Linked DNA regions of Homo sapiens. The protein of the gene in region 3 interacts with the protein of the main gene of each other region in a pairwise test. Each region holds a gene or a part of one and is shown on either strand. Other genes may lie near its edges.

Region 1 (9,131 bases), on a different chromosome or scaffold from region 3:
TCTTTGAAAACAAGTAAGACCTTGGGAATAGAGAATCCAGCATACTAGGTCCTAGAAGGAGAGTGGAGAAGAGGGGGCAGCTGAGTCCTATGAGGCATGTAATAGGTTGGGAGAGCTGAGGGTTTGGGTGGGAACTCATATGGATCCCAGGAGAGGAAAGGGCTGAGAATTTGGTGAGGGTGGGGGCATTTGACCCAGTATTTAGAGTCTAGAAAGAGATGGAAGACACTACTATGGAGCAGGGCCTGGGGTTTAGCCTCTAATTATCCAGATAGGTGGAACTCGCCCAGCTGAGGCAATAACCCTTTTGTAAAGAAATGGGCAACCATATCAGTCAGAGTAGCTTTTTCATATTATTGTTTCTATTATAGCTGGCAGAGTGAGAGACAAATTCCTTTTGGGGATGTCCGGCTACCACCTCCAGCTGACTATAATAAGGAGATCACAGAAGGGGATGAAGTGGAGGTAAGGGCTGTGGAGTACACCTTTCTAAATGTCACTTTTCCCCAGGATTCTAGGCTTTTCTCTGGTTGGTTCATGTTCCTTCCTCCCCAACTAAGCCATATCCAGCCATGTAGCCTATGGAAATGTAAAATGCAACAGTTCCCCTTTTATCACTGTTGTGATCAGCCAAACTCTCAGGAACATCCCCAGTTTCAGGCGATTTGCCTTCCATTTATGGTAACAACATCTAAAATCCAGTGCCCTCTGATTTTTTTGTTGTTGTTGTTGTTGTTGTTTTGAGATGGAGTCTTGCTCTGTTGCCCAGGCTGGAGTGCAGTGGCGCGATCTCAGCTAACTGCAACCTCCGCCTCTTGGGTTCAAGCAATTCTTCCACCTCAGCCTCCCAAGTAGCTGGGATTACAAGCACCTGCCATCATGCTCGGGTAATTTTTGCATTTTTGTAAAGACATGGTTTCACCATGTTGGCCAGGCTAGTCTTGAATTTCTGACTTCAGGTGATCCACCCGCCTCAGCTTCCCAAAGTGCTGGGATTACAGGCATGAGCCACCATGCCCTGCCGTCCTCTGATTTTAATTAGTTCCTTCCTCTGGTTTCTTGTATCCTTGGTTTAAGATACATCCCAGGCTGGATGCAGTGGCTCACACCTGAAATCCCAGCACTTTGAGAGGTCGAGTGGGGCAGATCACCTGAGGTCAGGAGTTCAAGACCAGCCTGGCCAACATGATGAAACCCCATCTCTACTAAAAATACAAAAAATTAGCTGGGCGTGGTGGCGGGCGCCTATAATCCCAGCTACTTGGGAGGCTGAGGCAGGAGAATCGCTTGAACCCAGGAAGTGGAGGTTGCAGTGAGCTGAGATTGTGCCATTGCACTCCAGCCTGAGCACCAAGAGCGAAACTCTGTCTCAAAAAAAAAAAAAAAAAGATGCATCCCAAATACCTTTTTTTTCTTTTTGAGATGAAGTCTCACTCTGTTGCCCAAGCTGGAGTGCAGTGGCGCGGTCTCAGCTCACTGCAACCTCCACCTCCTGGTTCAAGTGATTCTCCTGCCTCAGCCTCCTGTGTAGCTTGGAGTACAGGCATGTGGCACCACACCCGGCTAATTTTTGTATTTTTAGTAGAGGTGGGGTTTTACCATGTTGGCCAGGCTGGTCTTGAACTCCTGACTTCAGGTGATCAGCCCACCTCAGCCAAAGTCCTGGGATTATGGGCATAAGCCACCGCGCTTGGCCTCTTTTTTTTTCGTGGAAGTGGGGTCTCACTGTGTTGCCCAGATCGTTCTTGAACTCCTGAGCTCAAGAGATCCTCCCACCTTGGCCTTCCAAAGTGCTGGGATTATAAGCTTGAGCCACTGTGCCCAGCAGCCCCAAATATCTTAATGGTTGTTCTATTGTTTATGTTGCCCAAGCTGGTCTTGAACTCCTGGGCATAAGCAGTCCTTTTGCCTCAGCCTCCCAAAGCGCTGAGATTACAGGTGTGAGCCCCACCATGCCCGGCCTCCTCATCCCTTTCTTGATGCTTTTGGGTGGTCTTCAATATCTCTTTGATTCTCTACTTTTCTTTAGGTTTATTCTCGAGCCAATGAACAGGAACCTTGTGGCTGGTGGCTGGCCCGGGTGCGGATGATGAAGGGAGATGTGAGTGACTGGGAATGCCTTTGGAGAACTACTGAAACAAATATGTTATTCATAGAAAGTTGCTCAGGTCATCCACAACTTCTCCTTTTTTACCATGTGCCAGTTCTATGTCATTGAATATGCTGCCTGTGATGCCACCTACAATGAAATTGTTACCCTGGAGCGACTTCGGCCAGTTAATCCCAATCCCCTTGCAACCAAAGGCAGCTTCTTCAAGGTTACCATGGCTGTGCCCGAGGATCTGAGAGAAGCGTGAGTGTTAAGGATGGTGGGAATGAGGGCCCTCTTTACAGCCCTAATCTCTGGCTTTATTTCTCCCAGGCATCACTCCCACTTTGCAGTTTTCTCTGTTGTTCCCCTGGCCCTCTACTAGAGCCCTTCTTGCTAAGAAGACACTTAGTTTCTTTATTTTCCCATCCTTGTTCTTTAACTGTGGTCCCTCTTCTTTTCTTTTCCTTTCTTTCTTTTTTTTTTTTTTTTGGAGACAGAGTTTTGCTCTTGTTGCCCAGGCTGGAGTGCAGTGGCACAATCTCGGCTCACCGCAACCTCCACCTCCTAGGTTCAGGCGATTCTCCTGCCTCAGCCTCCCGAGTAGCTGGGATTACAGGCATGCACCACCACACCCGGCTAATTTTGTATTTTTAGTAGAGACAGGGTTTCTCCATGTTGGTCAGGCTGGTCTCAAACTCCTGACCTCAAGTGATCCGCCTGCCTCAGCCTCCCAAAGTGCTGGGATTACAGGCGTGAGCCACCGCACCCGGCCCAGTCCCTTTTCTTTTCTTATTTACTCAGCCCTGCTTCTCTGAATTTTTTTTTTTTTTTTTAATAGAGACAGGGTCTCACTATGTTGCCCATGCTAGTCTTGAACTCCTGACTTCAAGTGATCATCCTGCCCTAGCCTCCCAAAGTGCTAGGATTACAGGTGCAAACCACCATGTCCAGCCTCCCCCGAACTCTTCACTGTACTCTCTGCATTCTGCCCGCTGAGTACTTTTTTCCTCTGCAGCTGCTCCAATGAAAACGTCCATAAAGAGTTCAAGAAAGCCCTGGGAGCCAACTGCATCTTTCTCAACATCACAAACAGTGAGCTCTTCATTCTGGTGAGTTTATTCTGCCTGAATTTCACATAAGCCTTTTGAACATTTTTTCTTTTTCCCTTTTTAACCCTTTTGCAGAAAGAGAAGGGCTTAAATGTGCTTATATTTATTTGTCAAGAGGACTTTATTGCTCCTGACTCCTACAGGCCCAGGTAGCCCTACCTTTTTTTTTTCTTTTTTTTGAGACGAAGTCTCACTCTTGTCACCCAGGCTGGAGAACAATGGCACGATCTCGGCTCACTGCAACCTCCACCTCCCGGGTTCAAGCAATTCTCCTGCCTCAGCCTCCTGAGTAGCTGGGATTACAGGTGTGCGTCACCACGCCGGCTAATTTTTTTTTTTTTGAGATGGAATCTCACTCTGTCGCCCAGGCTGGAGTGCAGTGGCGCGATCTCGGCTCACTGCAACCTCCACCTCCCAGATTGAAGCGATTCTCCTGCCTCAGCCTCCCGAGTAGCTGGGATTACAGGCGCCTGCCATTGCGCCTGGCTAATTTTTTTTTGTGTTTTTAGTAGAGACAGGGTTTCACCATGTTGGCCAGGCTGGTCCTGAACTGCTGATCTCCTGATCCACCCGCCTCGGCCTCCCAAAGTGCTGGGATTACAGACGTGAGCCACCGCGCCCGACATGCCCGGCTAATTTTTGTATTTTTAGTAGAAACAGGGTTTCACCATATTGGTCAGGCTGGTCTTGAACTCCTGACGTCGTGATCCGCCCGCCTTGGCCTCCCAAAGTGCTGGGATCACAGGCGTGAGCCACCACGCCCGGCCTCTGACCCTTTTTTTTTAAACCTGATAATCATGTTGCCATCTGGGTTAGAGACCCTCTCTTGATATTTGGACTTTCAGAAATAGAGTATGTAGCTCTCACCTTATGCTTGCTCCTTGCTTTCTCTCTAAACCATTTTCCTTCAGTACCCTGATAGTCAGCCTTTGTGGGACTGACAATGAGTCTCCTCCTTCCTAGCTTCATTTCTTTTTTTTTTGAAAACAGAGTATTGTTCTGTCACCAGGCTAGAGTGCAGTGGCGCAGTCTCGGCTCACTGCAACCTCCGACTCCCGGGTTCAAGCGATTCTCCTGCCTCAGCCTCTGGAGTAGCTGGGATTATAGGCATGTGCCACCACGCCCAGCTAATTTTTGTATTTTTAGTAAAGACAGGGTTTCACCACGTTGGCCAGGATGGTCTCGATCTCATGACCTCGTGATCCGCCTGCCTTGGCCTCCCAAAGTCCTGGGATTGCAGGCATGAGCCACCGCGCCCGGTCTCCTAGCTTCATTTCTTAACCCTTTTCCCGGGACTTAGGCATCCTGATTTCTAGTCCCTGGCTCTCCCTTAGTGTTTATTCCAAGCCAGTTTTAATGACTTTCCCACTGGTTTCCTCCCAGTCAACCACAGAAGCCCCTGTGAAGCGAGCATCTCTGCTGGGTGATATGCATTTCCGAAGCCTGCGCACCAAACTGCTACTTATGTCCCGCAATGAAGAAGCTACCAAGCACCTAGAGGTAACTTTTAGCTCCTTTTCCTTCTGCTGAAGGGTATTGTCTTCCTCCCTTCCTACCCTGTCCTCCATCCATGATCTTGTGTTTACAGAACAAAGACTAAGGCTTTTTCTGGGCAATTAAACCTGGGTCAGCTATTTTATCTCAGACTCCTCCAGATGGCAGAGCTCTATCATGGTATAGTGCAATTATTTTCAAATTTCTTTTAGCCAATTTTTTTTTTTTTTTTTTGGGAGACAGAGTCTCGCTGTGTCGCCTAGGCTGGAGTGCAATGACACGATCTCGGCTCACTGCAACCCCTGCCTCCTGTGTTTAAGCGATTCTCATGCCTCAGCCTTCTGAGTAGCTGGGATTACAGGCGTGCGCCACCACACCCGGCTAAGTTTTGTATTATTAGTAAGATGGGGTTTTGCCATGTTGCCCAAGCTGGCCTCGAACTCCTGGCCTCATGTGATCCACCCGCCTCAGCCTCCCAAAGTGCTGGGATTACAGGCGTGAGCCACCACACCTGGCTGAATGGTTTTTTTTGAGACGGAGTCTCACTTTGTCACCCAGGCTGTAGTGTAATGGTATAGTCTCAGCTGACTGCAACATCCACCTTCTGGGTTCAAGCGATTCTCCCGCCTCAGCCTCCTGAGTAGCTGGGACTACAGGCTTGTGCCACCACACCCAGCTCATTTTTGTATTTTTAGTATTGATGGGGTTTCACCATGTTGACCAGGCTGGTCTCAAACTCCTGACCTCATGATCCACCTGCCTCGGCCTCCCAAAGTGCTGGGATTACAGACATGAGCCGCTGCGCCCGGCCTTGGTCTTGAACTTCTAGGCTCAAGAGATCCATCTGCCTGTACTTTGCAAAGTGCTAGGATTACAGGTGTGAGCCACCACATGCAGCCTAGACTAGAATATTTATTTTTTAGGGTGGGCGCGGTGGCTCACGCCTTTAATCGCAGCACTTTAGCACTTTGGGAGGCCGAGGCAGGCAGATCAATCCGAGGTTGGGAGTCGAGACTGGTGAAACCCCATCTTTACTAAGAAGACAAAAATCAGCTGGGCGTGGTGGCACATGCCTGTAATTTCAGCTACTCGAGAGACTGAGGCAGGAGAATCGCTTGAACCTGGGAAGTGGAGGTTGCAGTGAGCCAAGATTGCGCCATTGCACTTCAGCCTGGGTGACAAGAGTGAAACTCTGTCTCAAAGAAAAAAAGGATATGACTGGGCGCGGTGGCCCACGTCTGTAATCCCAGCACTTTGGGAGGCTGAGGCGGGCAGATCACCTGAGGTCGGGAGTTCAAGACCAGCCTGGCCAACATGGGTGAAACCCCGTCTCTACTAAAACTACAAAAATTAGCCAGGCGTGGTGGCAGGCGCCTGTTGTCCCAGCTACTCGGGAGGCTGAGGCAGGAGAATCGCTTGAACCTGGGAGGCGGAGGTTGCAGTGAGCCGAGATCACACCATTGTACTCCAGCCTGGGCAACAAGAGTGAAACTCCATCTCAAAGAAAAAAAGGATATTTCTTGTTTTTTTGTTTGTTTTTTGAGATAGCGTCTCTGTCGCCCAGGCTAGAGCGCAGTGGCGCTATCTTGGCTTACTGCAACCTCCACCTCCCAGATTGAAGCGATTCTCCTGCCTCAGCCTCCCAAGTAGCTGGGATTACAGGTGTGTGCCATCACACCTGGCTAATTTTTGTCTTTTTTAGTAGAGATGGGGTTTCACCATGTTGGCCAGGCTGATCTCAAACTATGGACCTCAGGTGATCCGCCCACCTCGACCTCCCAAAATGTTGGGATTACAGGTGTCAGCCACCACGCCTGGCCTGACTAGAGTATTTCTGTGAGATCTTTTTGAATTCTGACATCGTATAATTGTCAGATTCCCTTTCGTTGGTATTATACTATTCTAAGTGAATAGGGTGTGTGTGTTTGAATACCATTTCCATTTATCAAGGGAATTGATCTTTTTGGGAGGCTTTTTTCTGTGCCTGTGCAATTTCTGGGTCATGATAATCTTTGACTTCTTCAGGGATCCTGCTCAGGGCACTGGCAGGTAAAAATTCACCATTACCTTCAGATGATACAAACTTTATTTTTTGTTTTTGTTTTTTGTTTTGAGATGGAGTCTCAGTCTGTTATCCAGGCTGGAGTGTATGTAGTGGTGCGATCTCAGCTCACTGCAGTCTCTACCCCCCGAGCTCAAGTGATCCTCTCACCTCAGCCTTTGGGTGGGTGGGATTACAGGTGCATGCCACCATACCTGGCTATTTTTTTTTTTTTTTTGGAGACAGTTTCCCTCTGTCACCCAGGCTGGAGTGCAATGGCACAATCTCCGCTCCCTGCAACCTCTCGCTCCTGGGTTCAAGCGATTCTTGTGCCTCGGCCTCCCAGGTAGCTGGGATAATAGGCACGCGCCCCCACGTCTGGATAATTTTTGCTTTTTTAGTGTTTCACCATGTTGCCCAGGCTGGTTTTGAACTCCCGACCGCAGGTGATCCACCTGCCTTGGCCTCCCAAAGTACTGGGATTACAGGCATGAGCCACTATACCTGGCCCTAATTTCAGTATTTTTAGTAGAGACGGAGTTTCACCATGTTGGCTAGGCTGGTCGCGAACCCCTGGCCTCAAGGGATCCACTTGCCTTGGCCTCCCAAAGTGCTGGGATTATAGACATGACCCATTGCACCCGGCCTAATTTTTGTTGTTGTTTTTTAATTTTTTGAGACGGAGTCTCATTCTGTCGTCCAGGCTGGAGTGCAGTAGTGCGATCTCAGCTCACTGCAGCTTGTGTAGTTAGCGCAGAGTGAGCAAAGGGAGACCGATACAAAATTCGGTCAGAGAGTAGATCATGTAAGACATGTACGGTAGGCTGAGGAGGGGGGATTTTATTGTGCGTATACTGAGAAGCCATTGAGTTAACAGTGCCTTCTGGTTTTTTGTTTTGTTTTGTTTTGTTTTGTTTTTGAGACGGAGTCTCGCTCTGTCACCCAGGCTGGAGTGCATTGGCGTGATCTCGGCTCACTGCAAGCTCCACCTCCCAAGTTCACGCCATTCTCCTGCCTCAGCCTCACGAGAAGCTGGGACTACAGGCGCCTGCCACCACGCCCGGCTGATTTTTTTGTATTTTTTTTTAGTAGAGATGGGGTTTCACCGTGTTAGCCAGGATGGTCTTGATCTCCTGACCTCGTGATCCACCCACCTCGGCCTCCCAAAGTGCTGGGATTACAGGCGAGAGCCACTGTGCCCGGCCGAAAGTGCCTTCTGTTTTAAACTCCTGTTTCAATGACAGATGGAAAGGGGGGCAAGAATGGAAGCAGGAACAGAGCACAGTAGTCCAGGTGAGAAACTTGAACTGGAGTGCTAAAGGAAGAGAGAGAGAGTAGTTTTATGTAGGATAAATTTTACGAGTAAAACCAGTAGGACTGACAGGCTCTGTGATACTGAGAGATACATATTTGGTCTCCTGACCAGGCTCCTGGCATTCAACTTCTAAAATCCTTGGAATCTCCAGTGATGTGTGTTTTTGTGTGCTGATGAGTTGATTCATGGCTAGCCCCTCTAGGTGGCTTCATGATTAGAGGGTTGGAACTTTCAGCCTCACCCCCACCAACTTCCTGGGAGGGGAATGGGGCCAAAGGTTAAGGCAATCACTGAGGATCAGTGATTTAATCAGTCATGCCTAGTAGTGAAGCCTCTAAAAACCGGAAAGGGGCCGGGTGCAGCGGCTCACGCCTGCAATCCCAGCACTTTGGGAAGCCGAGGCAGGTGGATTGCCTGAGGTTAGGAGTTTGAGACCAGTCTGGCCAGCATGGTGAAACCCCTTCTCTACTAAAAATACAAAAAAAGGGAGGCAGAAGTTGCAGTGAGCAGAGATCATGCCACTGCACTCTAGCCTGGGTGACAGACCCCATCTCAAAAAAAAGAAAAAAAAAAAAGAAAACCCAGCTGTTCTGCAAGCTTATCTAGAAGACGCTTATAGGTCATTGTAGATCTCTTCCCCTCCCCTCCTAATGTAGTGATTTTGAACACTCAACTTAGTTTATTTTTCCAACTTTCTCTTCTTGCCTGGTATAAATCCTTGGTATAATTCAGTCCTATCCAACTTGGAAGTGGGAAGTAGTGTATTTCAATCTAGGAATGTCTCCTTTCAGGTATTGTTTCTATTTGGTGCTTACAACATGGGATTCACTCCTCTAAAACCTTTCCTGTCTTCCTGCCCCTGAACCCAGGGGTTCCTCTAAGGACTGATTGAGAAATGAAGTGAAAGCCTGGTGTTCTAGAGGCATGTTTTCTGTTTTTCTTAACCCCTCACTTTTTTTTGAGACAGAGTTTTGCTCTGTCACCAGGCTGGAGTGCAGTGGCATGACCTCGGCTCACTGTAACCTCCAACTCCCTGGTTCAAGCAATTCTCCTGCCTCAGCCTCCCAAGCAGCTGGGATT
Region 2 (9,115 bases), on a different chromosome or scaffold from region 3:
GCAACCTCACAAACCTTGCATTACATAACCTTTTTTTTTTTTTTTTTTTTTTTTTGCAATGGAATCTTGCTCTTGTGGCCCATGCGATCTTGGCTCACTGCCACTCTCCCTCCTGGGTTCAAGCGATTCTCCTCCCTCAGCCTCCTGAGTAGCTGGGATTACAGGCATGCACCACCAGCCGTGGCTAATTTTTCTATTTTTAGTAGAGACAGGGTTTCACCACGTTGGCCAGGCTGGTCTTGAACTCCTGGCTTCAAGTGATCTGCCCACCTCAGACTCCCAAAGTGCTGGGAGTAGCATGAGCCACCCCTTTTTAATAGAAATGGGGTCTCGCCATGTTGCCCAGGCTGGTCATGAACTCCTGGGCTCAGGCTATCCTCCCATCTCTGCCTCCCAAAGTGCTAGGATTACAGATGCCACCACTCCCAGCCTACATAAAGCATTTATAAAACAAAACAAAACTGAAATAATTTTCTTAAATCACTGCCTCAAGACTAATAAAACTGGCAACTCTCAATGATTTCCCTCAAATTACTCTCCTTTTTGAGAAGCAGTATAGAATGATAAAAAGCTGGAGATCTGAAGCCAACATCCTAGGTTCAAATCGGCTCTTTCACATACTGGCTATGTGACTATGGACAAGTTATTCCTACGTGTTTCAGGTTTCTTCTGTAAAATGACACTAGTAGCAGTATAATACCTGCCTCCCAGGACTGTTGTGAAGAATAAATGTAAATCACTCATAAACAATGTCTGTAACATGCATACTGAATACTTAAAAGATGCAAGTGATTTGGTCATCTGACCCTCACAAAAACAAGTATTTCAAACTGCTGCTTACTTTGAGGATTCCACGTGTTATATCAAAAGATATATCATTTCAGTAACTAGACCTTTGGAGGCAGTGAGATAAATGAGACTAATTGATCTGAAGGATCTGATCTGCTACTTTTACATCACAAAGGTACCTGCTTTATCTTTTAAGTAACAGCTTGCTATGGAATACTCAGCCTTCCTTTCGGGTTCAGTCAGATGTAGTGGAAAGATGAGGTTGCTAGGAAACTTTCAGATTTCTAGTAGACAAATAGAGAAAAACTTGTCAATACTATTGCCATTTCCATTCTTTGGCATGACTGGGCAAAGAGTACCCAGTGCTAAAACATTTGTCATTTGTGAGAAGCGCTATGCCTCTGTGGTTAGTAACGATGGCGTTAGAATGCCTGGTTATAACCCTGGCTCTGCTACTCGCTGTGACCTTTGGCAAGTTACTTGACTTCTCTGCCTCAGTTTCCTTATCTGTGAAATCTGGATAATAATACCCATCTTATAGGGTTGTTGGGAGGATTACATTAGTTAATTTCCATAAAGCTCTTAGAATAGGGCCCAACAGAATAAGCATCAAAAAGTGTTGATTATTAAAAGCATAAAATGTTTTCCAGTATTAATGACATAACTGTATAAAAATATATCTTGATCTCATGCAGAAAAGAAATGCTACTGTGTCCATGTTTTAGTTATTTGTATTAGTACCAGATGTGAGGTAGTACAAATGCAAAGGAGAAGGTACAGGAACACATCTTCATGTAATTAACCTACTGCCTGATGACCTGACCTTGGGCCAGAAAAGAAAATCAGAAAGATTATGACTTGATAGCATCTTTTAGAGGGGTCTCATGCATCTGATAAGGACTGGACTAAATTACCTGCTATAGGCTGGCCATGGTGGCTCATGCCTGTTATCCTAGTACTTTGGGAGGCTGAGGTGTATCACTTGAGGTCAGGAGTTCGGGACCAGCCTGGACAACATGGTGAAACCCCGTCTCTACTAAAAATACAAAAATTAGCCAGGCATGGTGGTGGGTGCCTGTAATCCCAGCTACTCGGGAGTCTGAGGCAGGAGAATAGCATGAACCTGGGAGGTGGAGGTTGCAGTGAGCTGAGATCGCACTTCTGCACACCAGTCTGGGCTACAGAGCAAGACTCCATCTCAAAATAAATAACATAAATAAATACAGCTAGGCATGGTGGCTCATGCCTGTAATCCCAGGCCTTTGGGAGGCTGACGCAAGTGGATTACCTTAGTTAGGTGAGGAGTTTGAGACCAGCCTGGCCAACATGCTGCAACCCTGTCTCTACTAAAATAACAAAAATCAGCCAGGCATGGTGGTGGTCACCTGTAATCCCAGCTACTCAGGAGGCTGAGGCAAGAGAATCGCTTAAACCCGAGAGGTGGAGGTTGCAGTGAGCCGAAGGTTCCAGTGAGCCAAGACTGCACCACTGCACTCCATCCTGGGTGACAAAGCAAGGCTCCGTCTCAAAAATAATAATAATAATTTAAATAAATAATAAATAACCTGCTAGATTTTCATTGAACACATTGTTTCCATCTTCTATTTGTAAGTTATTTCTAGCCTTTCAACATTTAACACTTAGTTTCTTCCCAGATAGTTTTCTAAATCAGTAGCATTGGAGCGTACGTTCTCAGGGCCTTCTGAGACTGTGTCACAAGTCATGGAAAAAAAAAATTTTTTTAATTAAAAATAGCTGGGCATGGTAGCTCACACCTGTAATCCTAGCACTTAGGGAGCCAGAGAGAGGAGGAAAGCTTGAGCCCAGGAGTTCGAGACCTGCCTGGGCAACATAGCGAGACCCCATTCTCCACAAAAAAGAAAAATATAAAAAATAAAACCATTAAAAGCATTAATAATAATTTAGCCATTACCAAGAGGAAGAACAAATTCTGCTTATCAAGACAGCCATTTCCTCAATAATTTTTTAGCAATGCCTCATAAGCTGACAGCAAGTCTAGACAGCTGGCTTAGCTGCAATAGAATGAATCGGTGTTTTAAGTGTGAAGAATTTTAAAGCAAGCCAAGTAATTGTATAAAATTTAAATTTTATGATCATGTCTGGACCTTTTTACACTTAACACAATGGAAATGTTCATATTCATTTTTTTCCCCAAAGGAAAAATTTCTGAATCATCACTATGTTGCACAGTAGAATAGAAATATGAATTCAGGTACTTAGTCAAGTTTCTAAAGAATGCAAATAACAGACATGATTTAACTTCCAAAATCTGAAGTCATCAACATGATTTTGTAGTACTCTATCTCAGGTTTTACCTAAAAATTCGTTATTATTCAGATAAAGATAGCTCCCTAATCACATGTTTTTAAAAAGCCTCTGCCCCACGACAACTTCCTGAGATCTGTGAAGAAACTGCAGTCTTGTGATCAGACTCCATATAGGACTGGCAGTTTTGTAATCGTAGGGAAAAAACGGTGACTGATTTTACGTGTCAATCAGTTGTAGTCTGCTGATCTGATTAGAAGCCTTGACAAATGCCTGGTGGCGATTGCAAATAACTGCCAAGCATATAGGGATGATACAGTAGCCCACTGTTTTGGGATCAGCTCTTGTACAAGAGTATAGGAACAAAAACATCTGTAAGTAAGGTACCAGAAAAATAACTGTCCACACCCAAAAAGGCAAGGAGAGTAATTGAGCTTTCAAGGAGTGTGTCCATGTGGTTCCTTCAAGGGGCTCCTCAGGGTGCTGTTGAATGTGTTCCAAGGCCAGCCTGTTGTAAGTCTCACTGATTTCAAAAACATAGTAAAATGCTGCTGCACTGGCTAACAGATACAATCCCACTCCAATCCATCCCATCCGCTGACGGAAGTTCATCATTCTCCATGCTCTGTGCCTTCAAATTAAAAAAGAAAATACAATTAGGGTCTAGTAATGCTGTCACGGCAACTACTCCAAATGTACTTGCTTTATCTCCAAGAATTCTAGGCCGGGCGCGGTGGCTCGCGCCTGTAATCCCAGCACTTTGGGAGGCTGAGGCGGGTGGATCACGAGGTCAGGTGATAGAGACCATCCTGGCTAACATGGTGAAATCCCGTCTCTACTAAAAATACAAAAAAAATAGCCGGGCGTGGTGGCGGGCACCTGTAGTCCCAGCTACTCGGGAGGCTGAGGCAGGAGAATGGCGTGAACCCAGGAGGCAGAGCTTGCAGAGAGCCGAGATCACGCCACTGCACTCCAGCCTGGGCGACAGAGCGAGACTCTGTCTAATTAAAAAAAAAAAAAAAGAATTCTAAAATATCCCACTAACACACTTAAGATTTAAAATAATTAAATTAAACACCTATTAAGAAATGTAAAACTTACAGGTTGTTTTGTGTAATACTTACAATCAAGTAAAACAACACACACAAAAAAACAAAAAACCATTGATTTCAGTATATACTGAGTTCTGCTTTTTAACGGGAATCCCTCAGAATAAATCACTGCATCCTACTTAAACAGGTCCATAATACCCGCCCTCCAGAAACTGGAATTAAACTAGTTTCTCACAGCACATTTCACTTTGACAGGTGAAACACTTTCTGGCATAACAGTACTGCTTCAGACGTGAACGCGGGGTGCTACAAGTCAAGCCCCCAAGTTAAGACAGTAACTCCTAAGCACTTACAATGGTCCCGAAAATCTTCCTGTTCCCACGGCAAGCGTTAAAGAGTCACTCAGCTCTGAATAATCGGGTGGCTTTGGCATTTCAGAGAAAGCCAACATAAAATAAATCCCCTGGGTCACCCGGCTAGGAGAAAGGTGAGCGCCGCCAGCCTGGAGCACCAGCTACTAGTGATTAAGAACGGCGTGACTGCGGCGGGTCACGCGCGGCCCGGCCCCCGTCGCCGCCGCCGGAGACCCGCTCTGAGAACCTGACCCGGCAGGGAGGCGTCCCCGCCACTTGGGCCTCCGGGCGGCCGGCCCCGCCCCCTGCCGCGCTGCAGCGCCGGCACGCCGCGACCAAGGCTGCGCAGGCGGCGCCAGGCCCGGGCCTCGCCGCCTTGCAGCGCCGCGAGCCCAGCGCCCGTCAGCGGTCGCCGGCGGAGCCTGCTTGCAAAGCTGAGGTCCCGGATCTCACCTTCCTGTCCCGTGGTGGCCAGCCCGCCCGCCGTCCCGGATGCCGCCGCAGTCGGAGCTTCCGGCTCGGGCCGGAAGCGCGCGCGCCCCGCCCCCGAGGCCCGCCCCTCATGACGTCAGATCGCCCCCGCCCGCCGCGCAGCTTCCCCGAGCGAGACCAAAACAGGTGGAATCCGGGCTGGAGCCGGAGCTCCGGCGGCGCGGGTGGCGGCACGTCCCTCCAGGTGGGTGGCTCTCTGGGTCTGGCGACTCAGCGCTCCTCAGCCTTGCCCCCTGGTGCCCGCTCGCGACTGTCATCGCCCCATCACTTCTCGTTGCAGACAGTACCACAGGCACCTGGAGTACCGGCATCGGTCGCTGTGGCCCCCGAGTGTCCGTCAGAGCCTAGGGGAGCCTGCCCTCCCGCGCCTCGTCGGGGCCCGGCCAGGCACCTTGGCCGCCGGCGCACGGACGCGGGCACGAGCACTAGATCACGGTGAGTGGAAGCGGGCCCGACGCGGCCCTGCAGGCCCGACATCCGCCAGGCACCAGGGCTGGGAGGGGTGAGGGGCGCGCGCCGCAGTGCGGCTGCCCTGGCGTCGCCGCTGGGGGCAGGGCGCGCGGGGCTTGGGGCCTGCACGCTTGCCCTGGACGTTGGCACCTTTAGCTAACCTGTCTGCTCTGTCTTGCAGGCTGCTGGACCTCGGCACGTTGACAAGATTTCTCTGGGGTACCGCGGAGGATTACTTTGAATTTCGGTGGTCGCCTGTGGTCTGGCATATTTAGAACTTAAGTCTATTATTTCGGGCACCATGACTTTGAGGCTTTTAGAAGACTGGTGCAGGGGGATGGACATGAACCCTCGGAAAGCGCTATTGATTGCCGGCATCTCCCAGAGCTGCAGTGTGGCAGAAATCGAGGAGGCTCTGCAGGCTGGTTTAGCTCCCTTGGGGGAGTACAGACTGCTTGGAAGGATGTTCAGGAGGGATGAGAACAGGAAAGTAGCCTTAGTAGGGCTTACTGCGGAGACTAGTCACGCCCTGGTCCCTAAGGAGATACCGGGAAAAGGGGGTATCTGGAGAGTGATCTTTAAGCCCCCTGACCCAGATAATACATTTTTAAGCAGATTAAATGAATTTTTAGCGGGAGAGGGCATGACAGTGGGTGAGTTGAGCAGAGCTCTTGGACATGAAAATGGCTCCTTAGACCCAGAGCAGGGCATGATCCCGGAAATGTGGGCCCCTATGTTGGCACAGGCATTAGAGGCTCTTCAGCCTGCCCTGCAATGCTTGAAGTATAAAAAGCTGAGAGTGTTCTCGGGCAGGGAGTCTCCAGAACCAGGAGAAGAAGAATTTGGACGCTGGATGTTTCATACTACTCAGATGATAAAGGCGTGGCAGGTGCCAGATGTAGAGAAGAGAAGGCGATTGCTAGAGAGCCTTCGAGGCCCAGCACTTGATGTTATTCGTGTCCTCAAGATAAACAATCCTTTAATTACTGTCGATGAATGTCTGCAGGCTCTTGAGGAGGTATTTGGGGTTACAGATAATCCTAGGGAGTTGCAGGTCAAATATCTAACCACTTACCAGAAGGATGAGGAAAAGTTGTCGGCTTATGTACTAAGGCTGGAGCCTTTGTTACAGAAGCTGGTACAGAGAGGAGCAATTGAGAGAGATGCTGTGAATCAGGCCCGCCTAGACCAAGTCATTGCTGGGGCAGTCCACAAAACAATTCGCAGAGAGCTTAATCTGCCAGAGGATGGCCCAGCCCCTGGTTTCTTGCAGTTATTGGTACTAATAAAGGATTATGAGGCAGCTGAGGAGGAGGAGGCCCTTCTCCAGGCAATATTGGAAGGTAATTTCACCTGAGTCTCAGGGAACCACGAAGGGATATGGCAATGAGTAGAGCATGAAGGTAGAACAGTCTATATACTCTTGTGACACATACAATCCCTACCTTGTGCTGCCAAGTAACTCATTTTTGTGCAATTCTCAGTATAAGCCCTTTGTCGTTTCTGTGCCTATTTAAAGTCTCCTAAAGGTGTAATTGACTAGGAAGGATGTAGTTCTACACTGCCATTTACCTATTTAAATTCATCCTTGTGAATATCTTTGTTGTTGTTGTTGAGACAGAGTCTCGCTCTGTCACCCAGGCTGGAGTGCAGTGGCGTGATCTTGGCTCACTGCATCCTCCGCCTTCCAGGTTTAAGCTATTCTCCTGCCTCAGTTGCCCGAGTAGCTGGGACTACAGGCATGTGCCACCACGCCCAGCTAAGTTTTGCATTATCAGTAGAGACGGGGTTTCACCATGTTGGCCAGGCTAGTTTCGAACTCCTGACCTCAAGTGATCCACCTGCTTCGGCCTCTGAAAGTGCTGGGATTACAGGCGTGAGACACTGCGCCCAGCCTCATCCCTGTGAATTTCTTATTGTACACAAGTTCTTTCACTATCTGTGTGCAGTGCTCTGAGGGGACAGACAAGGCTTGGGTGTATATGCCAACCAGATCTCATTGAAGTATCAGCTTGTTTGGTACTAGGTGCAAGTGTAGCATGTCACATGTGACCATGTTGGATCATTGACAATTTTTAGGTATGTACTGACCTACATTTATGATGAAGATCCTGAGCGGAGGTTAAGATATTAAGTTATTTTCCATATGAATCAGAATTATATTGATTCTGTGCAATCAAAACAAAAGGCAGAATAGAATGCTGAGATTGGTTAAGTTTGCAATGACCATCTTGAACCACAGATTTCTGCTATGTGTCATCAAAACATCTAGTTCTGAGTAACATTTTCACGATTGTTATAAAATTATAGGTGTGAACTTCTAAAATAAAGGAATGCTAATAAAATGACTTTGTCTGTTTTGTTTATATCACGGTTCCAAGAGAGATTTCATTTGAATAAAGAGTTCCCAAAGCATGAATCTGCAAACCACTGAACCTACACAGACTTAGTTCCTTGGACTCTTTCCTCTTGGTGCTCAGGGGTAGGAAATTGTTTTCTAAGTGAAGGGACCTTCTACCGAAGCAGTAAAACAATGGGATGAAACAAGACAGTGCACAAATTAGTGCGAGTAGTGCAGATGTATCAGTGTGTCAAATTTGGAAGGAGAAGGAAAGAAATGAACATTGCATGCTGCTGCTTGGAAGATTGGACTAAAAGTTTCTCCATGTACTTTCCCATTTAATCCTCTTGAAAAAAGGTTGAGCAGTATAATCTTAGCACTTTGAGAGGCTGAGGCAGGAAGATCGCTTGAACCCAGGAGTTCGAGACCAGCCTGGGCAACATAGTAAGTACAAAACATTTTTAAAAACTAGCCAGGCATGGTGGTGTGCGCCTGCAGACCCTGCTACTCAGGAGGCTGAAGCTGGAGGACTGCCTGAGGCCAGGAAGTCAAGGCTGCAGCAAGCCATGATCATACCACTGCACTCCAACCGGGTGACAGAGCAAGACCCTGTCTAAAAAAAAATAATAATTAATTTAAAAAATTCCTGCGGTATAGGAAAACTCAGTTTCACACTTGTGGAAATGGGCACAAAAGGTTAGAAATTTGGTCAAGGGCTGGGCGCAGTGGCTCATGCCTGTAATCCCTGCACTTTGGGAGGCCGAGGCGGGCGGATCACGAGGTCAGGAGATAGAGACCATCCTGGCTAACGGTGAAACCCCGTCTCTACTGAAAACACAAAAAATTAGCTGGGCGTGGTGGCGGGTGCCTGTAGTCCCAGCTACTCAGGAGGCTGAGGCAAAAGAATCACTTGAACCCAGGAGGCGGAGGTTACAGTGAGCCAAGATAGTGCCACTGCACTCCAGCCTGGGCAAAGCGAGACTCCGTCTCAAAAAAAAAAAAAAAAAAGAAATTTGGTCAAGGTGAAACATCCTTGGGCCAGAATTCTATCCTCTGTAGTAAGTGTAGTGAGCGATTAGGCCAGAATTCTTGTCTTTCTGCAAGGCCCATGTTCTTTCTACTGCCAAGAAAGAGAAACAATCATCAGGGTATCTATACCGAATAGCCTCACAAGGGAGGCAGGGCAGGCATTGGCTCCATTTCATAAGTGTCCATCTTATGTGCATTGGAGGGGAGTACAGTTGACCCTTGAACAACTTGGGGCTTAGGGGAGCCAGCCCACTGCACAATCTGCACATAACTTTTGATTCCTCAAAAACTTTACTATTACTGACAGGAGGCCTTACCAATAA
Region 3 (9,131 bases):
TATTAACCGGACATCTCTAGCATCTCCCAAGCACAAATATATACATAAGATAAGGAAAACTAGTTTTAATATCTACCTGTATATGGAACCAACTCTATCAAAAATAGTTTTAACTGTTTGTCATGGAACATGTGAAACATAAAATGGAGAGAATACTATAATAAACTGATGGCTAATCTTATTTCATCTATTTCCTCCCTTTCATTTCCCACTCCAATATTATCTTAACCAAATTGAAACATTGTATCAATACATCTATAAATATTTTAAAGTATATCTCTAAAAGAAAAGGACTCTAAATATGACAGTAATATTAGTTTTAAAATTTTAATAATTATTGCTTAGTAACATCAAAATATCTAGTCATTTTCCTATTTATCCTCTCCTGTCATAATCTTGTTTGGTCTCTTAGGTCTCTTAGTCATTCTTAATTTGTAATTTTTGCTCCATTCTCTCTTCTGTCTCCTTATTTCTTGATTTATTTTTCAAAGAAAACTGTAGCTCCAAGACAGCACATGTAAGTGCTCAATCTTGGTCTCTAGATACTATTTACCATTAAAAGGAACCAGAACTTTCTGTAATAGCAGCTGATTTCAAGTTTAGAACAGGAAAAAAGCAAGATGATCCAGGAGCATCTTGTCATACCACAAAGAAAAACTATTAAGGACCACAGAGTTTATATTAACAGATGCAGGAACCACTTTGAGGAGGCTGGCACTAGCCAAAGATGGGGCAATTGAGAATCAATAAGAAAAATAACATAATAGATTGAAATACATCAAGTAAGTTTAAATCCAGGAATTGATAATGATAATCAAAATTCAACAGAAGTCCTAACCTTTGGGGGATGTTGGGGAGCCAATGCGTTATTTTAAAAACTGGCTAGTAAAGAGGAAAATAAATAAATAATAGCCTATCTTTCCTATATGAACTGTATCTTAGGCCAACCAAGTGGATAAGGAGCAAGATTTTCTTAGTCTAAAGAAAGCATGATATAATTAGAGTATCATCATTTTGTTTGTTTGTTTGTGAGTCTCACTCTGTTGCCCAGGCTGGAATGCAGTGATGTGATCATGGTTCACTGTGGCCTCGAACTCCTGGGCTCAAGTGATCTTCCCACCTCAGCCTCCCAAGTGGCTGGGACTAGCTGTGCATTCCACCACACCTGGCTAAATTTTTCTATTTTTGGAAGAGACAGGGTCTTGCTATGTTGGCTAGGCTAATCTTGAACTCCTGGGCTCAAGTGATCCTCCTACATCAGCCTCCCAAAGTGCTGGGATTATAGGTGTGAGCCACCATGCCCAGCCATCATTATTTTGCAACCCCAGTAAAATTATGTAGGCAGTAATCATAAAAGGCTGCTAGTGTCATGAGAGATACCCAACATTTGGAGGTCACATCATCACCCCTCAAGTGGTCTCGCAAAAAAAAGACTTCTTCATTGACTTTTAATGATTTTAGTACTTTAGGTATATGGGCAAAGAAAAAGAGCTAGTGATTTTTTCCTTTCTTTTTTCTCTGACATAGAAAAAAGGTAAAATTTAGGTTTATTAAAAAGATAAATTGGGCTTACTCATGAGGCAAGAACTCAATTAGAACAACAAACACTTTTATTTTATTTTATTTTATTTTTATTTTTGAGGCAGAGTCACAAGACTCTGTCACCTAGGCTGGTAGAATTCAGTGGCACGACCTTGGCTCACTGCAACCTCCACCTCCTGAGTTGAAGCGATTCTCCTGCCTCAGCCTCCCGAGTAGCTGAGACTAAAGGCATGTGCCACCATGCCCGGTTAATTTTTTTGTATTTTTAGTAGAGACAGGGTTTCACCATGTTGGCCAGGCTGGTCGTGATCACCTGACCTCAGGTGATTTGCCCGTTTTGGCCTCCCAAAGTGCTTGGATTACAGGTGTGAGCCACCACGCCCGGCCTAGAACAACAAACACTTTTAAAATAAGCATTTGTTTAGAGGACCTAGCTAAAGGAAAAAGTAGCTGCAAGGAACATTTAAGATAGGACCAAATGGACATCTTTGCTAGTATGTCAAGGTCTCTCAGTTAGACAACACAAAGTTTTAAATTTTATATTATCATTCCTACTAAAGTTCATAGATAAAGAAAAAGTGGCTGCAGGGAATGTTTAGAGCATCATTATGTCTGTCCTGCTTGTGGTTGAAACAGTTACTTAATCTCTCAGCCTGTTTCTTCATCTATAATATAATGCAGATAATAACAATATCTACCTCATAGCATTATACAAGGATTAAATGAGATAATGCATTAAAGCACACATAACTCTGAATAAATGTTATCTACAATAAAATTTATTAGTATTACATTATCCTTATGCCATGAGTCTCATACTTGTTCTATACATTCAGAAAATAGAACTACAAAATAGCATAACTCAGAAAGGTTTTAGATGCTTGTTTAATAATCAAGTTGAAGTAAACTTACAAAACGGTGTTTATTTAAATAGGCACTGACAATTTCACATCAGGCTAGTCAATAGCACCTATAATATGTTTTTTTTTTAAGTCTTTGGGCCTAAAAGTGTTTTTTTTAATCTTCACATTTATGCTATTATTTTATTTAAAGTACATGTTTTTGTAAACACTCCTCCATCAAACAGCTAAATTGTGGGCATCTATTACATATTGCCTGCTTTTCTCATGGAATGAGCCCTCTGTGAGCTTCCTCTTCCCAGAGAAGCACCACATCAACTGTCAACTGCAGACATAATTCATAAGGACAAACAGCCTATGTTGAGAATGCTAAATGTCTCAGTTGAGCCACTATTTCATAATTCTATAACAGCCTAATTCCAGATGTGTATTAGGAAAATGTTCATATTCAATGGAAACTATCACTATTACAAAGCAAATTTTCTTCTTAACCTCCTGGAACCTTATATAGCTGAGGGCTAAAACTACTCAGGTACAGCTTTTTTTCTACTTGCCTCCTGAGAACACAAAGAGAAACACTCATCATCATCATTACTATCATCATTTTCATTAGATGTATGGAAAAATTATTTTTATGTCATGAAGGTGAGGTACCAATATACTGTGGTTTTCTTCATGGTCTTTTTTTTTTCCTTAAGAATGTTGTTTAAAATTTTTTATCCTTGTATTGATTCACATGACTTAAAAAATCTGCTTATGAACTGTATCTTCCTGAAGCAGGCTATAAAATTCTAAGATGATTAAACCATTGCTTAAAAACCATTTCAGCTGCTACAGTGTCTATTGTATAAAGATGTCCAGACTGCTGGACAGGAGCAGGGATAGATCTCCTAGGTACAGAGACCAAGAGACCACCTTGGATAAGGGAAAAAATAAGTCTCAGGGTACACCTGGCAAAGTGTCACCTGTCTTACTCTTCTTCTCAGGTTTCCTAGGCTTAAGGAAACATAGCAAGAAAAAAGCAAACAGGAGAGGTCAGAGGAATGACTGCCTTCCTCCAGGATAATGAGCTAGGAAAGAAACCAAAGGCCTTAAGCAAGGCAATAAAATACGTGAAAAGTGGCAGGAGAGATATTTGATGACAGAGAAGACCACTGTATCAAAACAATCTCAGACATTTAGACTGCAGATATGATTTCAGGGAAATTTACAAACTGTGAATACAGAATTTTTTTAATTTTAAAAGTGAAATTAGATTTTGGTTAATTTATAAATAATTATGTTTGTGAAAAATTTTAGCAAATTTTATTACAGCCATGTGTTTATTGTTATTATTACTTTGAATTTTCTGTGGAATTTCTCCCTTCTCTCCCTTTTTCCTCTCCCATAATATATATTCTTCTGTAGTCTTGTTGGTTTAGTTGTTTGACTGAGAAGGCTTGAAGTATTTGAAGACTAAGATTACTGAAAAGAAAAGGGTTTTGTCTCTATGGGGTACCCACATTTGCAGGGACTATGGTTATTTAGAACGTGGATTTATAACCAGGACACCATCACTCAACAAAATGTCCCAATGACCATCAAAACAAGTATGAGGAAATAAAAAACATGCTTAGTTTTTAAACTTCAACCTCACAGTGACTAAAATCATAGTCTCTATATAGATAAGAATGCAGTAAGACCCTCTATAGACAAGAGTTCAGGGGGGCCAAAGAATGTTGCCCTAAATGAATGTTGCCCTGCCATGCCTCTTTAGAATTCTTTGATGCATGCATTGACTGACACATTGTCAGAGTTCTGGAGCATAGGAGGAGAAGCATTCACCCTCCAGAGACTGCTCTAGACTAGATCATAACACATCTTTCTGAAGTTTTCCTACAATCCAGTTTTCTCTGTTTTAACAACTACGGCTTAATATCATTGTGGATCAGCCACATTTAATTTACTGTTGTCTATATGACTTAAATTGTGTTAACATTATATTCTCCTCCAGGTGTCATTCTCTATATTCTACTTGTGGGGTATCCACCCTTCTGGGATGAAGACCAACACAGACTCTATCAGCAGATCAAGGCTGGAGCTTATGATGTATGTAATAACTATTTATATCACTTTAGATGAAGGTTTGTCTTTTGCCTGTTGACCAAGAGCCAGATCTTTTCATTTTTCTTTTAACCATAATTTTTACCACTTTCTCATATTATTTCCCTCTCTCTTAAGGAAAGGGAGAAAGAAATGCAGCATTTGTATCCAGTTTACGTTTCCTTTTAACTCACTGTCTCCTAAGATTGAAAGAAAAGCCATGTGAAGTCTCTGAGGAAGAACTTTGTCAAAATATTTGGACCTTAGTGCATTTTAAAAACATAAAAATTAAAATATTTCTGCTATAGAAATGATTATTGCCTGTTTAGTTGAATTATATTCTCAAATATCTATCACATAATTTTATATTATATACCAACAATATTTTGCTGTGATCACATATCAAATAGAACATTATCCCACTATACCAGTTTCTGGGTTTTGTTTTTTGTTTTTGTACTGTTTGGGATACTATGCAAGCTTTCATTTGAAGAATGAGTTTCACAATTGAAAAATTTGAAAATCATAATTCTAATAATATATTTAATTTATAATTAGAATATTTGAAAGTAGATATATATATATACATTCATAAATTAAGTTCAGAATCTGAAGAGGAAGGCTTTATCTACTTTCTCTTTATGGCTTAACTTTGTGTTTATGATATAATTTGCTCTCCTTTGATACATATTCTTGTAAATATGATTTACCACTTTCTCAGGTTTCCCCTCATACAGCCCTATGGAAATCCATGTGCAGGGTCTGGGCATGCTTTCCATGTGTTATTAAGTAGAGTAACTACAGAGTAGCAATATTGGGTTCACCTTTTGTGCACAAGTTGAAAGCTCAATGTGAAAGTGAGAGGAGAAGATATAAAATGTCTTTATTATATTCTATAATGTCTCGTGAACTCTTCAATGCATTTCTGATAAAAATTTTCTATTTAGATGGATGTGTGTGTCAGCAAGAATTAAAAATGTATATTCTTTGAATTTCAAAGCATTGCATTATTCCTAGACTAGTAATTGGAACAAATTATTATTTACATGGCAATAGCTAGCACATTCACCATCTTTACAGACTAGAACCAGCCCCTCTCTGGGCAGACGTAGCCCTGAAAATGCACTGCTTGGTATACCTAGAGGAATGCTTTCATGAAAATTAGAGAACTGAGGAAAATGTTCACCTTTCTTCATGCTGAACCTACCGCTCATTTGCTATCAGAAGACCTGTACAACATTAAGAAACAGCCTCGTGTGTTTCTTTAACAGCTCCTAATAGTTAGCAAGCTTTTACAACTGCCAAAGATAAGCTTCAGGAATTAAAAAATGGCAATTGTTTAGCTGGCAAAAATTACAGATATTAGAGTCAATATCATTTTTCTCATGCTTTATTATGCCAGTGAGTCACAAGTTCCCCATTTTAAAACTACTAAAAATGGACTAATTTAATTCCATGACACAGTGGCAATGGCTTTATTTTTCAAGATTGTCCATACAAATTCATGAATTGGGAAAATAACCTGATATTCTATCATTTTGCAACTAATGTGGTGTAAATTTCCCTTCATCGTTGAAGGACAGTATTTCTACTAAATATGCTAATCATATAAAAGTAAGTTAAGTAATTATCACTACAAAAAATAATGTAAAGAAAGGAGAAGTAGCTTTCTTATATAGTCTTAATATAAAAAAGTATTAGTAATGGGAAGTTATAAGATTTGATTACTTTCATATACTTTGGTGAAATTTGTAATTGGGCAGATTAAACTTCTTGAAGGGTTAAAATGAAATCTTGCTGAAGCTCCTGTAGTCTCAGATTCTTCTCACTACAGCACTCCAAGTAGCCCTGATTAATAGGTCAGTTTTGGCACAGGAATTGAAGCTGTTTTATTACCTCTGCTATTACTGCTTATGAGTTGTGAAAGTATATAATACCTCATTTTGAACCTTGGCATAATATCATGATGACATTGGTACATGTAGCAACCTGTTTGCTTTTATTAAGTTTTGCAAATAATTATGAGAAAGATTGTATAAAATTTCATTTTCAGATCAAAGCAGAGATACTTTGAGAAGAATAGAAGATTCTTAAGTTCTTTTTTTCTGAATTTTAAAATGTATTTACCATATGTGATATGCAGCTCAGTACATATGTTGGTCCCTTATCAGATACTCTTTAATATATATAGTTGTCTACATAGAGGGGGAGAATAGATCTAAATGGTTTTATTTATTTTAGATACAACTTAACTTATATAAAAAGTAAATTTATGAAGAAATTCACTACTTGAGGGAATGATTCATGTAGTTGACTCTTCCCTGTTTGATCGAGTGTGTCTATTTTTTAAACTTTTTATAAATTTATATTTTTGAAGTTTCCATCACCAGAATGGGACACGGTGACTCCTGAAGCCAAAGACCTCATCAATAAAATGCTTACTATCAACCCTGCCAAACGCATCACAGCCTCAGAGGCACTGAAGCACCCATGGATCTGTGTAAGTAAAACTTCTCCAAAACTTCAAGAACTAAAATGAAAAATAAGCTCTCCTTTAATATATTGTTTATGGATTTAAAATAGCTTTGCAAAAAAAGATGAAACTCAGAATGAATGAATTTTTGACTCGAGGTGTTTAAGAAAATTAATTTTATGATGGTGAAAAAATGCAATTTTCAGTAGCAAAGTCTGAATTGCATAGATTCTTAAATAAATATTGCTTGCAGTAACAAAAGGAATGAGTATTCTCCATATCAATTATTAACAATACTCATGAACAAGGTTAAGAAAATAACACCAAAATTAAATGTGTCCCAGAAGAAAAGATTTAACAAAGTTCAATTATTTATCATTAGGCAACTTTAGAAACAAGTATGAAGTTTGGCAGCTGACAGTAGAGTTTCAGTGGCGTAAAATAATGGTCATAGTAGTCTGAATATATTTTAGAAATATTAAGAAGAATAGTGTGAAATTTGAGGGGGATCTGGAGACTTCAGTAAATTTCCAAATGTGTCAAATGCTAAGGTGATAAATGTGGCACTAAGTAAATGAAAGGCAGCTCAATCAAAATGTGATTGAAGACATTAAAATAAAGATAATTTGAGAAATTATTAATATTCATTTCTATACTTTCTGGTTTGGTTTTGTTTTGTTTTGAGACAGAGTCTTGCTCTTGTCACCCAGGCTGGAGTGCAATGGCACGATCTTGGCTCACTGCAACCTCCACCTCCCAGGTTCAAGCAATTCTCCTGTCTCAGCCTCCCGAGTAGCTGGGATTACAGGTGCCCACCACCACGCCCGGCTAATTTTTGTATTTTTAGTAGAGATGCGGTTTCGCCATGTTGGCCAGGCTGGTCTCAAACTCCTGACCTCGTGATCCACCCGCCTTGGCCTTCCAAAGTGCTGGAATTACAGGCGTGACCCACCGCGCCCGGCCCATTTCTATACTTTCTATACGTCAGTGTTGCATCTTGGTCACAAGTAGTCTTGGCAAAACTAAAATTTTATTTTTAGGTAACTTTGGCAATTGAATACTTAGAAGTTGATCCTGCAGGTGCAGCACCATTAATAAATATTTGATGAAGTCAGGGACATTATTATACTTAGTGTGTTTTAAATATTCTCAATTAAGTTACTTTTTCTCCTCTTCTTCTAGCAACGTTCTACTGTTGCTTCCATGATGCACAGACAGGAGACTGTAGACTGCTTGAAGAAATTTAATGCTAGAAGAAAACTAAAGGTAAGAAATTTTACATTTTTATGGGGAGGTAGATTTGACAGACTAAGAAGTGAAATACTGTGTGAGGAAAATAACTTCTAGCAAAGGCTTTCAATTATGTAGACCTCAATACTCTCATTATTCTTTTTGGGGCTCTTGGGAAATGGAATATACACCAGAATCAAAACTATGGTGAAAAGCTGGAATCATCCTGGCAACACATGCTGTGGATCCTTCCTTCAGTGGAAAACAGCTGTGCAATTTGATAATCAGAATCTGGCCCGCACACTAGGGCCGTCCCAGCATCATGAGAGACAAAGGCCTTTGACTCTCAGGAAACCAAAAAACAAAAACAAACAATAAAAAATCCCCTAACTGAAAGTAGGGCCAGGAAAAGATTTGTTATCAAAGACTCTATATTTGTTAGGTCCAGAATTTGCATAGGCAACACTGACTTTTGTGTTCTAATTTTTTTCACAGGGTGCCATCTTGACAACTATGCTGGCTACAAGGAATTTCTCAGGTACATGCATTGGGAACTCTGCTTCTTATCCCTTGGTCTTCTTTTTAAGTAGTCTCTGTTTTTTTGTCTCTGGAATTTTAAAAATCTAATAATTAGAAAAACTTCATTGTTCAGGGGTGGCAAATGTGTGGCACAGATTCCTTCTACACCTATGGCTGCCATTAGCAGTCTACCTGGGTGCTGTCTGCTGCCGAGCCTCCGTGACTGAACCCCTCACAAGACTGCTTCTGGCAGCAGTGGCCACCAGTCAGTGCTGGTGCAGGACTAGCCTCATCTGTCAAGTGCTGGGGTGCGCACGAGTTGTGGAAATAAATACTCCCTCATTTACGATCTCAGCGTTTCAAACCTAGAATTTATTACTGATATTTCATAAAGTAATAACTTTGAATAAGTTATTTTTGGTCTC
Region 4 (4,723 bases), on a different chromosome or scaffold from region 3:
TCTTTGAGGTATCAATGAAGTGATTGAATTTCAATACCTTAATTCAGTGCACATAATACTAATGTAACAGCAGATGAAAATTGATAAAACCCAAAAGAGAGTCATCTAAATTTGTAGTTCCTATTTCTGTGGGTTTGCCTGGCCATGGTTGGAGAGGGAATGGTGTTTGATGGTAAACACAGGGTGTTTGGGGATCAAGGAGCCTAGATTCTCTCCCTGGATCTGTCACTAACTTGCTGCGTGACCTGAACACGTCACTTTACCTCTCTGTGCCTCAGTTTTCCCATGCATGAAAAATAAAATAAAATAAAACGGGGATTCTAATGTTTGTAAGTGCTTTGAGATCTTTGACCAACAGGTGCTATTGGAGTGCAAAGTGTTACTCTTACGTGTTTATTTTGAGTCATGAGATAATCAATTTTAACCCAAAGTCATTGGATTATTTATATGAAGTCCATAATGTTCGAGTACCTCAGGGACATTTAAGAGTTGGAGGTGCAAATATATTCCAAAAGGGTGCAACAGACACAGTGTATCCCCCTGCTTCTGTTTTTGTATATTTTTGCTACTTGGTTTTTCTTGATCATAGCTATTTTGTGCTTGATCTTTATTGTCTAAGATGCAGTATCCTGTACTAGCTTATAATATTCCCATACCAAAGTCATGGGGAAACAAACATTATTTTGTTTTTGGTTTATTTATACTATATTCTGCATACAGTACTTTAAATGCCAATTACAGTGCAATCTTTATTTATTGTAAAATTTTTTAAGTGTACTTATGTACTAATTTTCCCTTGTAGCATGTTATATTTTTGTGTTTTATACTTTTGTAATTTTAGGTCAGTCTTGTTCCTTGGCAACATCTGTAGTATTATTAATCTTCTGACATTTTCTTATGTTTTTAAAAAGATAAGAGCATCTAGTGCATTAAATGCCAAAAAAAAAATACATTATCAGTGATTGAAACGTTTACATGTACCCAAAAACCATAATCATCTCTTGGAAGAAAATGCTGAGATCAATGAATTATTCTGTGTGCCTATATTGACGTAGTGAGTACTAGAGAGTTCTGTATTTTATTATTGACTATAATAATTAGTTTAATTAGCTTTGCAAACTGATGGCATCAAGGTAAATATATTTTTGCCAAAGTTCTGGCCTTCCAAAACTCACCCCCTTATTTAAATGTGTGCTATGACCCACTATGACCACAGCATCTGCATTTTCTAAAAAATTCCATGCAGGTGTTTTGGGGAGAGGTATTTTTTAAGCAATGAAAATTCAACTGAGTACAAAGCCCCCTCTTGGGGGGTTGGGGAAGTCTCTTTTTTGAAACACTTCAGAACTGCTGCTATAAAGAAATTCTCTAATTGGTTGAATTTTTTTTTTAAGTAAATAGTACTTTAGGCCAAAATTTATATGAATATTTGATCTTCTTGAGATTTTCATACTATCATTTAACCACCAGGAAGCTGAAGTGTGTGAAGTACAAAGCTGACAGCACTTTATTTTATTGCTCTCCATTATTTGGTATTCATTATATTCCTTCAGTCAGAAAATTATTACTCTCTATGGCACTGTTTTTTATCACAAATATGTATATGTGATATTGATATATAACTATATATATTGCCATCACACACGAACAATAAAATAAAGTGTTCTATTAACCTGATCTCTTTGCCCTTTTGCTATGTGAGGAGTGAATGAGTGGCCTTCTGATGCTCTGACTCTTCTCTGTATGTCAAACTCATCCCTGGCACAAGAAATTCCAGTCATGTGAAGCAAACTGCCCTTTGTCCTCAAAGAAATTGTTGAAAAAGAAAACTTTTTAAAGAGATTTTTTGCATATTCTCTGCCTTGTTCTTATCAACTTGAAATGTTGGCATTTTCTAACCTTGTTTTGTTGGCTACAATAATTCAGTATTCATGTCAAAATTGAGAAGTGCCCTAATTGAATGTGTTTGAATGTTATCCTTGCACAATTCTTTAAATTGAAAGATAAAATGTTTTACCTCACTGTTGGACATACATTCCAAGCTTTTCAACTCTAGGAGAAAAAGAAAATCATGTTTTCCTGTATTGTAAATTTTAGACTATTTCATATACATTGTATTAAAACTGCCATATCAATTTTAATGTATAGATTTTGCAAATATTATGCTATATGTAATACCTAACTGTATCTGTAGTGTATATGTAATATATTTATGCCCAATAAATGTTTTAATTCTTTCTGACTTAAATAGGGTTTTTCTGCCATGACTAGGATTGCTTTTGTTGTTGTTGTTGTTGTTTCTTTCTTTTTTTTTTTTTTTGAGACGGAGTCTTGCTCTGTCGCCAGGCTGGAGTGCAGTGGCGCGATCTCAGCTCACTGCAACCTCCAGCTCCCAGGTTCAAGTGATTCCCCTGCCTCAGCCTCCCAAGTAGCTGGGGATTACAGGCACTCGCCACCATGCCCGGATAATTTTTTTTTTTTTTTTGAGTTGGAGTCTTGCTCTGTCGCCCAGGCTGGAGTGCAGTGACCCAATCTCGGCTCACTGCAAGCTCCACCTCCCGGGTTCATGCCATTCTCCTGCCTCAGCCTCCCAAGTAGCTGGGACTACAGGTGCCCGCCACCACGCCCGGCTAATTTTTTTAATTTTAGTAGAGTCGGGGTTTCACCATGTTGGCCAAGATGGTCTCGATCTGACCTCGTGATCTGCCCGCCTCGGCCTCCCAAAGTGCTGGGATTACAGGTGTGAGCCCCCGCACCCAGCCTTATTCTTCCCTTTTAAATACTTAAAGCACATTCAGATTAGTTGAAAATTCACGTGTTTTTGGAGGCCAGGCAGGTGGCCTTCTGCAGAGACAGCAGCAGCTCAGCTCTTGCTGACCAAGGCCTTGGAGGACTGTGAGCCACAATCACATATGTCCATGTTTCAAAAGAAGCTAAATATCCAGATTTCCTCCATGGGCCAACTAAAAGGTGATTGTGGACTATACAGGCTGCCAGTTTAATCCTTTATCAGAGTCTCTGTGGATAATGTACCTTGTTGCCTAATACTTTATCTGTCTACCAAAACTCAGTCCAGATCTCCCTCTGTTCACCTGGCACACTGGGTGCTTCCTCTCCCCTGACGAACTCTATAGAGTGTTCATGTCCTTTCCTGCAGGTCTCATTCAACAACAACAACAACAACAGCAATAAAACACAGTGTTCCTGCTATGGCCATGGTTTTGTGATTTTAGATTGTCTTAGTAGGAATTCCCACTATCTCTTTTATTTTTCAGGAAAATGGGTAAAAAAAACTGTCACTTTATTGAACCTCACTTATATGAAGCATGGTAATTATTCTGGGTAAAGATGACAAATTGAGCACATCAAATTTTGAATGCTCCTGACACCACTAAAAGTAAAGGATTTTTTATTTTTTTAAGTCACAACTCAACCCTCAAGACTGGGAAGAAAGAGGAGTTATTGGCACCAGAATTTTGGAAATATGATCAACAAAACTTAATTCTAATTTGGCAGAGGAGAAAATGAGCATCAGTGTTTTTATTCTCAATGCAGGATACCCTAAAGGCTCAAAAATTGACAGCAACATATCCCTTTGAAGTGATAGTGAAGAGAGAGAGGAGGCTAAAATAGTATTGGTTGAAAGCTGTTTAAAATGCAGTTAGATCAATAAAATCCCTCCCCCTTTTTTTTTTCAGCTGGACAAAAATGTCCCTCCTCCCCACCCACCTCCATCACTCTTGCAGAAGCCTAGAGGTGTATCCTCAGGAGAAGGTTCAAATAGAAAGTCCCTGGACTGGGAGACACGATCCACAGTTGAGAATGAAGGCACCATATCAAAAGCAAATTAGTGAACATAGGCTTATGGAAGAACATTACAAAGAGCCTCATGGGCTGGGAACAACAAAAAAGAAATCTAAAAATCTAAAAATCTTCAATGAAATGGTTCAGCCAGAGCACTCTTGGGTAGTACTTTTCAACCTGTACATTAATATCACCTAGAGAGCTTTTCAAAATTCTCGTACCCTACACCAATAAAATGAGTATTGCAGAGGCATCAGTATTTTTTAACACTCCCCAGGCGCTTTCACTGTGTATATGAAATTGAGAACCATTGCTGAAAAGTGAAACTCTCAGTCAGCAATCCCCTATCAGCTTTTTAGTCTTTCATCTTAACCAAGGATAACCTGATATCTGATGAAAGTGTCTAACGTGGATGAAAAGCCCAAAACCAACAACTTGGAAGAATCAGAGACTACATGGAGAAGAAGCTTCAAAAACCTGTCATATCTCCAGAGAGATGAGAAAAGAAAAGGCATCTGTAGAATAAAGATAGACTACTATAGAAAAGGAACTGTTAACAAGAAAATGTTCTTGGAAATTAAACATTCGGTAGCATGGTTGGAAGCTGAAATTTAGCAAATAACCTGAAAATTTGAGGAAAAAAGAAAGGAAAAGATTAGGATCAGACCAGGACCATTCAATATCCAAGTAATAGGAACTCCAGAAAGAACAGAAAGTGGAAGAGAGGAAATCGTTAAACACATGAGTTTCTAGAATAATAGGGTATGGGAGCACACAACACAATGGATGAAAATAGGACTTGTACTAAGGCTCGCCATCTTGAAGTTTCAACACTAGAGAACCTCCCCAACATGAAAAGCTGGTCACATAGAAGGATTGGGAATCAAGCGTGGCGTTAGACATAAGCAGTTGCTTCAAG

The links.
Region 1: the proteins of CAMK2D (region 3) and FXR2 interact in binary tests that used the Homo sapiens proteins (3 or more experiments, as listed by UniProt).
Region 2: the proteins of CAMK2D (region 3) and MOAP1 interact in binary tests that used the Homo sapiens proteins (3 or more experiments, as listed by UniProt).
Region 4: the proteins of CAMK2D (region 3) and FNDC3B interact in binary tests that used the Homo sapiens proteins (3 or more experiments, as listed by UniProt).

What each region holds. Positions count from the first base shown.
Region 1 is NC_000017.11:7,596,979-7,606,109, reverse strand, and holds part of FXR2 (RNA-binding protein FXR2), read left to right. Parts: coding exon 1-13; intron 14-371; coding exon 372-465; intron 466-2,029; coding exon 2,030-2,101; intron 2,102-2,204; coding exon 2,205-2,353; intron 2,354-3,107; coding exon 3,108-3,201; intron 3,202-4,584; coding exon 4,585-4,701; intron 4,702-9,131. UniProt on the Homo sapiens protein: mRNA-binding protein that acts as a regulator of mRNAs translation and/or stability, and which is required for adult hippocampal neurogenesis. Specifically binds to AU-rich elements (AREs) in the 3'-UTR of target mRNAs.
Region 2 is NC_000014.9:93,180,851-93,189,965, reverse strand, and holds MOAP1 (modulator of apoptosis 1), read left to right. Parts: upstream 1-5,068; 5' UTR 5,069-5,156; intron 5,157-5,252; 5' UTR 5,253-5,407; intron 5,408-5,603; 5' UTR 5,604-5,723; coding exon 5,724-6,779; 3' UTR 6,780-7,767; downstream 7,768-9,115. Other genes in the region: LYSET (lysosomal enzyme trafficking factor), read right to left, coding at 3,295-3,706, 4,481-4,560.
Region 3 is NC_000004.12:113,512,922-113,522,052, reverse strand, and holds part of CAMK2D (calcium/calmodulin-dependent protein kinase type II subunit delta), read left to right. Parts: intron 1-4,395; coding exon 4,396-4,490; intron 4,491-6,861; coding exon 6,862-6,984; intron 6,985-8,139; coding exon 8,140-8,223; intron 8,224-8,682; coding exon 8,683-8,725; intron 8,726-9,131. UniProt on the Homo sapiens protein: Calcium/calmodulin-dependent protein kinase involved in the regulation of Ca(2+) homeostatis and excitation-contraction coupling (ECC) in heart by targeting ion channels, transporters and accessory proteins involved in Ca(2+) influx into the myocyte, Ca(2+) release from the sarcoplasmic reticulum (SR), SR Ca(2+) uptake and Na(+) and K(+) channel transport.
Region 4 is NC_000003.12:172,398,456-172,403,178, forward strand, and holds the end of FNDC3B (fibronectin type III domain-containing protein 3B), read left to right. Parts: 3' UTR 1-3,214; downstream 3,215-4,723. UniProt on the Homo sapiens protein: May be a positive regulator of adipogenesis.